Linked DNA regions of Homo sapiens: all the other regions are linked to region 3. Evidence: fine-mapped expression QTL. A gene starts in region 3. Each other region holds a variant in brackets. All regions are shown on one strand. Distances are between the middles of the regions. Region 1 overlaps ESYT2 (extended synaptotagmin 2). Region 2 overlaps NCAPG2 (non-SMC condensin II complex subunit G2). Region 3 holds the start of NCAPG2 (non-SMC condensin II complex subunit G2).

What was found. PIP is the estimated chance that this variant, and not a neighbour inherited with it, causes the effect. A credible set is the group of variants that fine-mapping cannot tell apart.
Region 1: its variant is the best candidate, but not a certain one, in a credible set for the expression of NCAPG2 in whole blood (TOPMed, PIP 0.62).
Region 2: its variant is the best candidate, but not a certain one, in a credible set for the expression of NCAPG2 in whole blood (TOPMed, PIP 0.76).

The regions. Positions count from the first base shown.
Region 1 is chr7:158,743,935-158,748,175 of GRCh38, forward strand. The region is part of intron 16 of ESYT2 (extended synaptotagmin 2); the gene reads right to left. Among named protein-coding and RNA genes, the nearest start is that of NCAPG2, 41 kb to the left of the region's middle. The variant T/C (reference allele first, on the strand shown) is at 2,100.
Region 2 is chr7:158,681,674-158,685,914 of GRCh38, forward strand. It overlaps NCAPG2 (non-SMC condensin II complex subunit G2), which reads right to left. Exons shown (of 28, transcript NM_017760.7): 9 at 1,627-1,713. Among named protein-coding and RNA genes, the nearest start is that of NCAPG2, 21 kb to the right of the region's middle. The variant T/A (reference allele first, on the strand shown) is at 2,661.
Region 3 is chr7:158,702,973-158,707,213 of GRCh38, forward strand. It overlaps NCAPG2 (non-SMC condensin II complex subunit G2), which reads right to left and starts at 1,832. Exons shown (of 28, transcript NM_017760.7): 1 at 1,752-1,832. RefSeq lists an enhancer at 593-1,171 and silencers at 1,749-1,848, 1,999-2,088, 2,209-2,488.

The DNA.
Region 1 (4,241 bases), 41 kb after region 3:
ATGGTGGCGCGCACCTGTAGTCCCAGCCACTCAAGAGGCTGAGGCATGAGAATCGCTTGAACCTGGGAGGAGGCGGCTGCAGTGAGCTGATATCGCGCCACTGCACTCCAGCCTGGGTGACAAAACTGTTTCAAAAACAAACAAACAAATGTAGAAAGGTCCACAGACAATATTAGTCTGTAAGAAAGATATTTTTAAAAACCCAAACATATTTCAGCCATATTCTCTTAAGTAGTGTTTCCATAATGATTAACATGGTATGAAATCTCCTAACAAAGACACAAAACACTGTTAACAAGCAAAAGATCTGCTATTTCGTCATTATAGATTACAATGAGCACAGAAAGAAATGATGTAATAATGACAAATGAGAAAAGCAGTAATGACAATAATGACCAATCGGTTCGGAGAACCCTGGGTTAATAGGCAATAGTCTACCTGTCTTTTAACCCCTGGGAAAATGGTGGCAATACACACTCATAACGATGTATACAGTTTCCATTCATGACATTTATGGAGACAATACATTTCTAAGTACCTTTTAAGCCTTCTCCATTCAAAATCCACATTAAAGAAAATTTACAGCAAGGCATTTAAAAATTTTTTAAAAAACAGAGGTGGATCTCACTATGTTGCCCAGGCTGTTCTCAAACTCTTGGCCTCAAGTGATCCTCTCATCTCAGCCTCCCAAAGTACTGAGATTACAGGTGTGAGCCACCATGCCCAGCCTCTTTTTCCTGTATAATAACCTTCTGCATTATCTCTGCAACAGGAATTATTCCTGTTAGATGGCTGTAATATAAAATAATTTAATCAAATAGAGTAAGAACTCTGAAGGTTTCTCAGGCTATACAAAAATGGTCAGAGAAATTAACACATAACTACTCAGGAAAACCTAAAAGGTTGATTGCATATTTCTTTTCAAACTAAACTATAATCACAAAAGCAGTTTTAAATGAAATAACTATGACAATGTTTGTGGAACTTTAAAAATTATTTTTAAAATCCAAGGTCCAGTAAGCATAGATTATTTTGAGAATACAGAAGTGCACTTTATGAAGGAAAAACCAGCTAGACAAAACACAAATCCTTTTGTATAAAACAGAATGTAAAAAAGTATCAGATTGGGGCAAAAGTAATTGCAGTTTCAATGGCAAAAACTCCAATTACTTTTGCACCAACCTAATAAAACAACCAACACAGAATAATGAGACAGGGTCAGGCAAGCGGCATGACCAGGTCTCCTAGGCCCGGCTGTTCACACTCACCTATCTAATGAGACAGGGTCAGGCAAGCGGCATGACCAGGTCTCCTAGGCCCGGCTGTTCACACTCACCTATCTAATGAGACAGGGTCGGGCAAGCGGCATGACCAGGTCTCCTAGGCCTGGCTGTTCACACACACCTATCAAGAGAGGTTCAAGATACAAGTAGCAAAAACAGAGGCTGAGGAAAAAAACATAAATTCAGAGATTTAAACGCCATGCTCTTCATACCTGATATAAGTAGTCTGAGAACTAGTAAGGCCCCAGAGGGCCTGAGCAATGGCAATGCCACCAACCACCCTGACCTACTGACATTCATGAGACACTCGCCAACACCAGAAAGGCACACAGCCTACAGGTGCACGTGGAGTGTGTCCCAGGACAGGCAGTGCTCTGGGCCATAAAGCCGGTCTCAAACATAAAAGGGCTCATGTCATACAAAGTATGTACTCTGACCACTATGGAATGAAATTGGAATCAATAATAGAAAGATTAAAAAAAAATCCCCAAACATATGGAAACTAAATAACAGACCAAAATAACCCATACACAGGTCAAAGGAAAAAACTGAAAGGGAAATTAAGGAAATAATAATAATCAAAAGGAGACATCAACGACAAGTCAAAATTTGTGAGATGTAGCTACAGAATTTAAAGTGAAATTTATTGGAGTAAATGCCTACATTATAAAAACAGAAATGTCTCAAGCTTCTTCTTTAAGAAACTAGAAAAAGAGAAGCAAAGACCCAAAGTAAGTGGGACTGAAATAATAATGATCATAGTAGAAATCAATGAAATAGTAAAAGAAAAGCAATAATGACAATTAAACAAAAAAT[T/C]GGTTAAGAAAATAAAATCAATAAACATCTTGTAAGACTTATTAGGAAGAAGAAGAGAGAAGACAGGCCAGGCATGATGGCTCACGTCTGTAATCCCAGCACTTTGAGAGGCCAAGGTGGATAGATGGCTTGAGCTCAGGAGTTCGAGACCAGCCTGGGCAATGTGGTGAAACCGCATCTTTACATACATAAATAGACACACACACACACACACACACACACGCCCCTCCAACACACAAAAATTAGCTGGGTATGGTGGCATGCACATGTAGTCCCAGCCACTTGGGAGGCTGAGGCACACATACACACATACCCAAAACACAAAAATTAGCTGGGTGTGGTGGTGTGCACCTCTAGTCCCAGCCACTTGGGAGGCTGAGGCGGGAGGATTGCTTGAGCCTAAGAGGTCAAGGCTGCAGTGAGCCATGACTGCACCACTGCACTCCAGCCTGAGTGACAAAGTGAGACCCTGCCTCAAGAAAAAAAAAAAAAAAGATTAATAAAGCACCAATAATAAAGACAGTGTGATACTGGCATAAAGACAGACATATAGAACAATGGAACAGAAGGAATTCCAGAAACAGACCTATACATATGGGCAACTGAATTTCTGGAAAGTTGCTAAGCTAATAAATTAGGGCAAATAATAATCTTTTCAACAAAGACTGAACAACTGCACAAATGCTGAACAACTACACAGCCATATTAAGAAAAAGAGGCTGGGCACCGTGGCTCACAACTGCAATCCCAGCACTTGGGGAAGCAGAAGTGGGAACATCGCTGCTCGAGCCCAGGAGTCTGCGACCAGTCTGGGCAACACTGTGAGACCCTACAAAAAATAAAATAATTCTCTACAAAAAATAAAAAAATTAGCCAGGCATGGTGGTGTCTGCCTGTAGTCCCAGCTACTCCGGAGGCTGAGGCAAGAGAATCACTTGAACCCAGGAGTTGGAGGCTGCAGTGATCTGTGATTACACCACTGCACTCCAGCCTGGGTAACAGAGTGAAACTCTGTTCTCAAAAACAAAGAGGCGGGGTGCGTTGGCTCACGCCTGTAATCCCAGCACGTTGGGAGGCCACAGTGGGCGGATCAGCTGAGGTCAGGAGTTCAAGGCCAAGCCTGGCCAACATGGTGAAACCCCGTCTCCACTAAAAATACAAGAAATCAGCCAGGTGTGGTGGCGCGCACCTGTAATCCCAGCTCTCAGGAGGCTGAGGCAAGAGAATCACTTGAACCCAGGAGGTGGAGGCTGCAGTGACTGAGATCGCACCACTGCACTCCAGCCTCCATGACAGAGTGAGACTTCATCTCAGAAAGAATGAAACATTAAAAAAAAAACCCCAAACGTCTTACAAACTCAGTATTAAGAAGACAAATAACCAAATAAAAAAGACAGGCAAAAAAACTGAATAGACATTTCACCATAGAAGATACAAAGACCGTAAAAAAGCATAAAAAGGTGCTCAACGTCATTAGTAATGACGCTGAAACCACCCGGTAATACTCCTATCTACCCACTAACACCACAGCACTGGCGAGATGTGGGGCCCGCTCGACTCACATGCACTTCGGTGGGAATGTGACACGGCACAATCTCTTTGGAAAACAATTTGGCAGTTTATTAAGAAGCTAAACATGAACCTGGCAACCTGCTCCTGGGCATTTTACCCAACAGAATGAAGGCATATGTACACACAGTCTTGTATGTGATATTCACAGCAGATTTATATGTAATAGGTCTAAACCGGAAAGAACCCAATCTTTTATCAATGTCTTACTCACAGGTAAATGGATGAGCAAATTGTGGTATATCCATAACTACTACTCAACAATAAAAAAAGACAAACTGTGGGTATCTGCAACAACACAGGTAAACCTCAGAATAATTATCACCAGAGAATATAGACAACTAGAGGACATACCGCATAATTCTATTTGTATAAAATCCTGGAAAATGTGAACAGTAATCTACAGTGACCAAAGGCAGGTCTGTGTTTGCCTGGGGCTAGGGGAGGCCCGGGTTACAGAGAGATCTACCAATTGTCCTGATTCTGGCGATGGATCCCCAGGTGTATACACGGGTCACAACTCAGCAAATTGTATACTTTAAAAAGTCAATTATTTGTCAATAAATTGGTTAA
Region 2 (4,241 bases), 21 kb before region 3:
TTGTGTACAATACTATCAAACTTTGATATCAACAGTACACTTGCTTCATAGAAAAATTTTCTAAACAGCTTAAGACTTAATTCACATGCCACAAAATCTACTGTTTTAAAGTATACAATTCAGTGGCTTTCAGTATATTTAGAGCTATGCTACCATTGTTACTGTCTAATTCTAGAACATTTTCATCAACAATGTTGAGATTTTTAATTTCAAATGATGTCTGAAGCACTGCCTGAAACCTCTTTCAATATCAATAAAATGACTTATCAGATAAATTTAATAGTTATCAAATAAAAACAATTTGAGGAAGAAACTATAATGTGTTATAAGTTGTGACAAAAACAATTACTTGGAGTTGAGTAACACGTTTCACTTGAGTGAAATCTAATATTCTCCCTTTAAATTCTTTTTGTGCATTTTTCCATAAATTTACCAAATAGTGATATCTATACTTATAATATCTTAATTACTCAGACTACCACAGCAAAAATAACATATGAAAACATACATAGTTTACATATAAACTACACATATAGTTTACATAAACATAGTTTACATAAATACATAGTTTAATGCAATTCTACTAAATAAAATTTGAAACACCAACTCATCTATGTGAAATAAATAACCCAAACTGACTACAACTAAATAAAGCCACACTGGGATGGGGGTGGGGGGTGGGTAGGACAGGGAGTTCATTGAATATATTTATCCTAAATATATGCAATCACGATTTTTAAATCCTCTGGAAAACTCAGTAGTCTAGATAAATCTCTGGGTTCTTTATCCTTGTGTAACTGAAATTAAATCATCAATAATGCAAAGAAACATTTTCTTATCCACTCAAAATTAATATAATTAGTATATTTACATTCTATAAATAGCAGTAGTTTCACTCTACAACAAAACAAAGAAATGAGTAGTCTTTATTCACTTGGTTTCTTGACATATGGTTGCCAAAACTAACAGCAAGCAAACAAGGCATCCCATGGGTTAGAACACTGATCAACAGCAGCTGCTTAATTTAAATAAACACAGCAGACCAGATTTTCCCATTCCTCCTGCCAGGATCCTTAAGATCCATCAAACACCTATCAGTGTAGTAATGGCACTGATGATAGAATCTTATCTAGTCAGTCCATTTACAATTATTAATATAAAGGTAAAGTTCATATCTAAATTCTGAGATTAATCTAAATTCTGAGATTACCTTTACAGAACAAAATATCAAAAGAAACAATCAAAACATTTATTCATTTGGTTTGCAGAAGAGCAAAATTGGAATTTAATAAGTAAAATAATAAAAATAATTTCAAATACCCTCTAGGATCTTTGAAAAAAATGATAGTGGCCATTAGAAACCAATAATTCTGGAAAATCTCAAGACAGAGAATTGAATTTAAGGTCATTCAAATACAATACTAACCATCTCAACAATACACCTTTGCTTTCCTCATTAAAACTTTGGTGGCAGGAATAAAACTGCCAGACATCAAATATCAAGGTTCTGAGAAATCCCCCTAACTGATGTCTGTGAAAGCTTAATTTTAAAATTTAACCAAAACAATTATCTAAAAACAAAACAGAGGAAACATTATTTCAAAAACAATCTGTTCACAATCTTACCTCCCGCACTTTGGAATGCACTGGAGACCTCCTCGGAAGGTGTATCCCGTGGAACATGAAGTCCTGGATGCAATCATTTTCAATCGCCTGAAATAACAAATGCAATGCAAAGCACTTGGTGTGTGTGTGTCCTACTGACGACCTGACAAGCAGTGCGGCATTTGAGTACAAAGAGTCTGACCTGTCCATCTTATATTTCATGAGAAAAAAACCTGGACCCTTTTGTCCAAGCTTTCTTATTTTAAGTCCATGCTTCTTAGAATCCCTTTGGTTTTCTTATAGCAAGGAGAATGCTTTGCTTCTCTTTTATTTGATGAAATATCAAATCTGTGCCAAATGGCAATGTAAGATTCCACCTACCACTCAAGGCTAGTTCAAATCAGACAAATTTCAGAGACTGAGTGCATGGTGAGTGTGGAGCCCCCTCTTCTGACTCATCACTGACCTGGACAACCTTCAGAAGACTGGATTTGTTCCAACAGCCTCCACAGAACAAAAACAGAACTACCTCTACGGCGGAAACTGTAAATAAGATATTTCAGGGCCACTGTTGACAAGGGCTGAGCAAGGAAGGTGTGTGGGAAGCCCTTCATCAGCCCCATGCACTAATGGTACTCAGAGTGCAGCAACTGGGAAAAGGCCTAGCCTCTAAGAGTAGCAAAAAACCCCAGTGGACCCTATGTCTGTACCTGTACTCTGTGCCCACCCTCACACATGAGCAGGATTTCTGTGGCTTTGAGGAAGGACCTAAGGAAACGCTCCTAGGGTTAATACTAATACAAACCAGAGTCTGCAGATGCTCAAGTTCCTCTTCCCCATTATATTTGAAAATATTTCCTTCACCTGAAGTCACTTAGCATCACTTAATGTGGGACAACCACACATTGTCTGACTTGCAATGAAAGATGAGATACACAGCACTACCTGGGAAGTTATTTGTACCATAAAAGTTGAATCCAAACCTTTAGAGCTAACTATCAGTATGCCAACATTCTACAGGACAACTGGTCCAGTTTCCTCACATGCCAATGGCA[T/A]AGATTTTAAGAAAAGGAAAGGAGGGAGGAATGCTCTAGAATAAGCGATTTTAATGGTATAACAAGCAAATGCCATGTGGGCAACTTGTTGAGTCCTAATTCAAAAAAACTCTAAGGAGACATTTGAGATCACTGGAAAAATTTTAATGTGGCTTGATTATTTTTAAAAATACCAAGGATTTACTGTCACATTTTTAGGTCTTACAATGGCATTCCATAAGCACATTTTTGAGAGATGAATAAAGTAGTATGTAGAAATGAAATGTCAGGTCTGGAATTTGCCTGAAAAACTTAAAGAGAGGGAGGGCAGAGAGGAATGGAGTGAGACTGAGAAATACACATTGTTGATACCAATTTTGTATACATCTAGTCAAATAGTTTTTATTTTGTTTATTTTTCTGTAGAGACAGGGTCTCGCCATGTTGGCCAGGCTGGTCTCAAACTCCTGACCTCAGGTGATCCACCCTCCTCGGCCTCCCAAAGTGCTGGGATTACAGGCGTGAGCTACCACGCCCAGCCTATTTTTTATTTTCTAGAAGTCAGTGATAAACCTTGGCAATACAAATCAAGTGTAAGTTGTGCAGAGGAGCAGAGAGGATGGAAGTAAACCCAGACATGGGGCAGCCTCTGTCCACTCTGCAGGTTCCTCCCTCTGCCCATCAGTGCAGGGCCTGCTCTCCAAAGAGGAATGAAAAGTCAGGATAGAACACAGGGTTGTGAGAGGCTCCTTTCTGACCTAGAGTAAAAATTTTATTCTCAGAGAAAAATAAAATGATTGAGAACCTGGTATAAGAAAAATATAAGGGAAAACAAACACACTTTTTTGTCCAAAAGGGTATCTGGATGTTGAGTTGGGATTGTGGATTACATAGCCCTATCTTCATAACATAAATACTATGTATTCACCAGAGTTACCCATAATCAAAGAAAATATCTTCAAATTCTCAAAAATAATGTAACTAAAAGAGGTGACTTGAAGTCCCTGAACGGCACTATCCAATAGAAACTGAATGCAAGCCACAGATGCAATTTTAAATTTTCTAGTGGCTGCATTAAAAACAGACAAAAGAAACAGGTAAAATTACTTCAATATTACACAGTCATCCCTTGGTATCCATGGGGGATCAGTTCTAGGACCTCCCTCAGAGACCAGAATCTGCGGATGCTCAAATTCCTCATATAAAGTGGAGTAGTATCTGCATATAACCTATGCACTCCTGCACACTTTAAATCATCTCTAGATTACTTATAATACTTAATACAGTGTCAATGTTATGGAAATAGTTGTGACACTATATGTGTAGGGACTGATGACAAGGAAAAAAAAGTCTGTACATGTTAAGTACAATGCATTTTTTTCCCAAATATTTTCGATCCTTGGTTGATTGAATCCATGGATGCGAAACCCACAAAGGGCCAACTACCACATTTCGCCTAATACATCCAAACCACTAACATTTCAACATTCACTCAACATTTTTAAAAAGTACTGAGATATTTTATATTCTCATTTCCATATGAAGTCTTTGAAATCTGGTATGTTTCTTACACTTACAACACATCTTGATTCAGACTGGCCAC
Region 3 (4,241 bases):
CTGTGCTTTTTCTATGCTTAGATATGTTTAGCGATGCAAATACTTGCCATTGTATTACAGTTGCCTACAGTATTCAGTACAGTAACATTCTAGGAGCAGTAGGCTACACCATACAGCCTATGTGTGTAGGCTACACCTCTAGGTGTAGGCAAGTCCACTCTGTGATGTTCATGCAATGATGAAATTGCCTAACGACAACGTGTCTCCCTCTTTAAATCAAGCATGACTGGCACATTTTTCACTGACAAAGAAAATGGGGAGGGAAGGGAGAGTGGCCAGTAACAAGCATAATGAATAGTGGCTAGGACAAATTCATGATTTTAGAAAAATAATCCAATAAGGTGCAGCAAACACATGGAATCATACATCTTCGCCCGGCAAGTCTGTGAACACTCTCCACTTTTTCATAGTTCTGGTCACTTTTCTTGTTTGCTCTATTTCCAAGTGTACCTCTTTGGCATGTTAGTCCAACTTACAGTAATACACTTCCTCTAGACTACCAAACTTATTCCTATATTTCCCATTTTCCCTCTTATATTAGTGACTGTAATTTTTTAATGGTTAATTTTTCAATCTATCTCCCAAAGTGGCAATATTCCATGTTTCTTGTACCATATGTGCATAAGACCTCAGCCCTGCAGCCAGAATGCTACTTTCAAGGTAAGGAGTCATCTCACCATCCAGTTATCAGTCCGAAGAGCAGGTTACTCTTCGCACAGGAGGTCTGGTACTAAATCAAGATGAGCATTAAAAAGAAGAAATCCCTGTTACCTTCTCACCACCTGTGACTTCCCACTCCGTCCCCAAACTCCTTCCTCATGGACACAACAAGAGGCACCAAACCAGCAACAAGAGTTCAGGAGACTGATGTCTCTGAGGACAATGCCCACGTCCACAGCTGGGGAGATACTCTCTGAGGGCAGTGCCTACACCCAGGGCTCAGGGGGACTCTCTCTAAGGGCAGTACCGACACCCAGGACTGAGGGGACTCTCTCTGAGGGCAGTTCCCATGCCCAGGACAGAGGGGGTCGCTCTCTGAGGGCAGTGCCCATGCCCAGGACTGAGGGGACGCTCTCTGAGGGCAGTGCCCATGCTCAGGACTGAGGGGGTCGCTCTCTGAGGGTAGTGCCCATGCCCAGGACTGAGGGGACGCTCTCTGAGGGCAGTGCCCATGCCCAGGACTGAGGGGGTCGCTCTCTGAGGGCAGTGCCCATGCTCAGGACTGAGGGGGTCGCTCTCTGAGGGTAGTGCCCATGCCCAGGACTGAGGGGACGCTCTCTGAGGGCAGTGCCCATGCTCAGGACTGAGGGGGTCGCTCTCTGAGGGTAGTGCCCATGCCCAGGACTGAGGGGACACTCTCTGAGGGCAGTTCCCATGCCCAGGACAGAGGAGGTCGCTCTCTGAGGGCAGTGCCCATGCCCAGGACTGAGGGGACACTCTCTGAGGACGGTGCCCATGCTCAGGGCTGGGGGGTCGCTCTCTGAGGGCAGTGCCCGCGCCCGGGGCTGGGATTTTCCTCCGACACGGACAAGAAGGACGGGCGTCGCTGAGCTGGGTAGGGGGGATGGCCCGGGGTCGCCAGTTCCGTCCAGTTCCGTCAGAGGCAGCACTGCCCGCACGCAGGTCGGCCGCCTCCTTAGGGGAGGGGAGGCTGGGACCCCGACCAGCCGAGGAGGGGCTTCCCGCCCGATCCCTGCTACTTCCCAGCCCCTGCTCTGAACCCAATCCCGGCTCGGCACCGCAGCTCTTACCTGGGCTCGGGGACCCGCCGTTTCCCGCGCTCGGACCAGATTCAAACGCACCCGCCGGCGCCCCAGACGGGCCCCGCCCTCCCGGTCGTCATCAGGCGCCGCTCTCGCGAGAGCTGGGGCGCCGCGAGCCTCGGGCCTCGCCCACACGCCCGGCCCGCCCCGCCTCCAGATCATGCCCCGCCCACATGCCCGCCAGTCTTCTTCCTGTCTATGCCCCGCCTCTTAGGGCGCGGCCTCGAGCAGCTAAGCCCAGTGCCCTACCGGGCACTACGGAACGCGCACGCGGGGCGCCACAGCTGGGGAACCCATGCCCGGTCCGCGCGCCGACGTCCACTGCGCGCTCGTGCGCGTCCTGGGGCCTCCGCGGAGGGAGTGCGCGGTCCAGGAGAGGGCGGGGCGCTGCGAGCGGGCGGTGTTGTGGGAAGGAGGAAGGAGAGGAAGAGAGAGAGGGGGAGAGAAAGGAAAGGCTTGGGGCGGGGAGAGGCCACAGGGCCGTGTCTGGATCCCCGGGAGGACCCCACCCCGACCTGGCCGGCCCCCGTGACCGCCCTCCCTGCCGAGGGGGCACCTGTCCGGGTGGTCCGCAGCCTGCACACGGTAGGTGCACCCTGGGCAGGTGCTTCCCCCGCAGGAGCCCCTCCGGCCAGGTGCGGCCCCTAACAGGTGCTTCTCCTGCAGTTGCTCCTCCAGCAGGTGAGGCCCCCGGCAGGTCAGCTGCCCATAGGGTGGAGAGGGAGAGGCCTTAGCGGGGACCCTCGGAGGCACCCGTGTGAAGGAGGAGTAGCAATGTCATTCAATTCTTTGGACTTAAATGCCAAAATCACATACTGATGTATCAATCTCTTTTAATTTGTGTCAGCGAATAACTTGATTGGGCGTTCCCAATTTTTGTTGAAAGCAAATTCTTAGAAAACGGTGCTCTTTACCACCGAGCTCTGCATCCCTTCGTGAGGACTTGGCCTTCCCTGGAGCTATATTCTTTCATGCTTGAGATGTCTAGAGTGGTATCTGTTTTCCTGGCTTAACTCAAGCCAGAGGTCTTGGCGAGATTGAAGTCGTTGCACTGTGGGAGCACAGCACCAACCAATAGGAACATCATGGGAGCCACAAGTGCACTTGTAAATTTCTAGTGACCACATTAGAAAAATGAAGATAAATAGGTGACATTAATTTTTAAATATGTTTTATTTAGCCTAGTATATCAAAAATATTTATGTTACTTGTTGGAATATCGTTTCAACAAGCAATATAAAATTATAGCAGGGAGAAGACTGGTTTACTAGGAAGCTTGCAACAGTGAAGCAAGGCAGGCTGCAGAGGGGAGGGAGAAGACCCACTCAGAGGATGCTGAGTCTGGGACCCTTGTCAACAGGTGGCCGATATCTAACATTGCCTATTTCATCCTGGGGCTCCAGCCACCTCTGACCTCCTCCTCCCTCCATACACAGATCCTTCCCTGCCATTTCTTGAATTTTGGTGCCCTCATCTTCTCACTGCTTTCTTCTTAGCAATTTCCTTCATATCCAAGGTGCAAACTGCCACCTTCAAGCAGTGACCTCTGCATCTGGATTTGCAAGACACGGTTATTTCTGAACTCCAGAATTTTCAACAGCTCACTGCCTACTCCCACGCTGGTGCTGACATGCATCCAAAACAGATATCGACTTCCCCTCCCACCCCTGAATCCTGCCCCTTTCCTTATGCTGGTCCCTCCTCCAATCAGCCATCTGTTCCTGGGGTTTCCACTTCCTGAGTAGGAATAATGTAACAAGTTACGCATGTGAGCTCTGAAGCTGTACCACCTGGGCTAACCTGGTTCTGTGCTCACTAGCTGGTGACCTTTGACAAGCCATGGACGACTGAGCCTCAGTTTCCTCATCTATCAAATGGGACCTACTTAAGTACTGAGCCTCCTCTAGGGGGTTGTTATGAGGCCTAAATGTCTGTATAATGCAGAGCTCAGCCTCCTCTAGGGGGTTGTTATGAGGCCTAAATGTCTATGTAGTGCAGTGCTCAGAGGCACGTGGAAGCAGGGCAGCAGGAGCGCCCAGTGCACCCCCAATGCACCTGCCCATGCAGCCACTAATGTCATAGGATCCTTTGGGTATCGCTTCACCAGCTAGAAACCTCCGTGGCCAGCGGTGCCTCTGCTAGAGTTTTGCTCGAGCCCACTCAGCCCAGCAGGTTGCACTCGGCTTGCACTACCAACCCAGATCCCACGCCTGCCAAGGGTGAGCCAGGTGCAGAGCGGCAAGGGGTATGTGAGCAAGCGAGCATGGGGTCCAACCACTGCGCACACCCAGCCATGCAGCTGCTGTGGTGGAGCAGGCAGCTCTAGGTGCCTGCACAGCTGCCGGCTCCATGCAAGGCTGTGGCTGGACCAGAGGTACCACAAGTGGCTTCCACTGCAGGCATCAGCATCTGGACAAGGGGAACATGGTGGCACCCGAAAGCTCACAGATGCCAGGAGCCACAGAGCCCCAAAGGGGG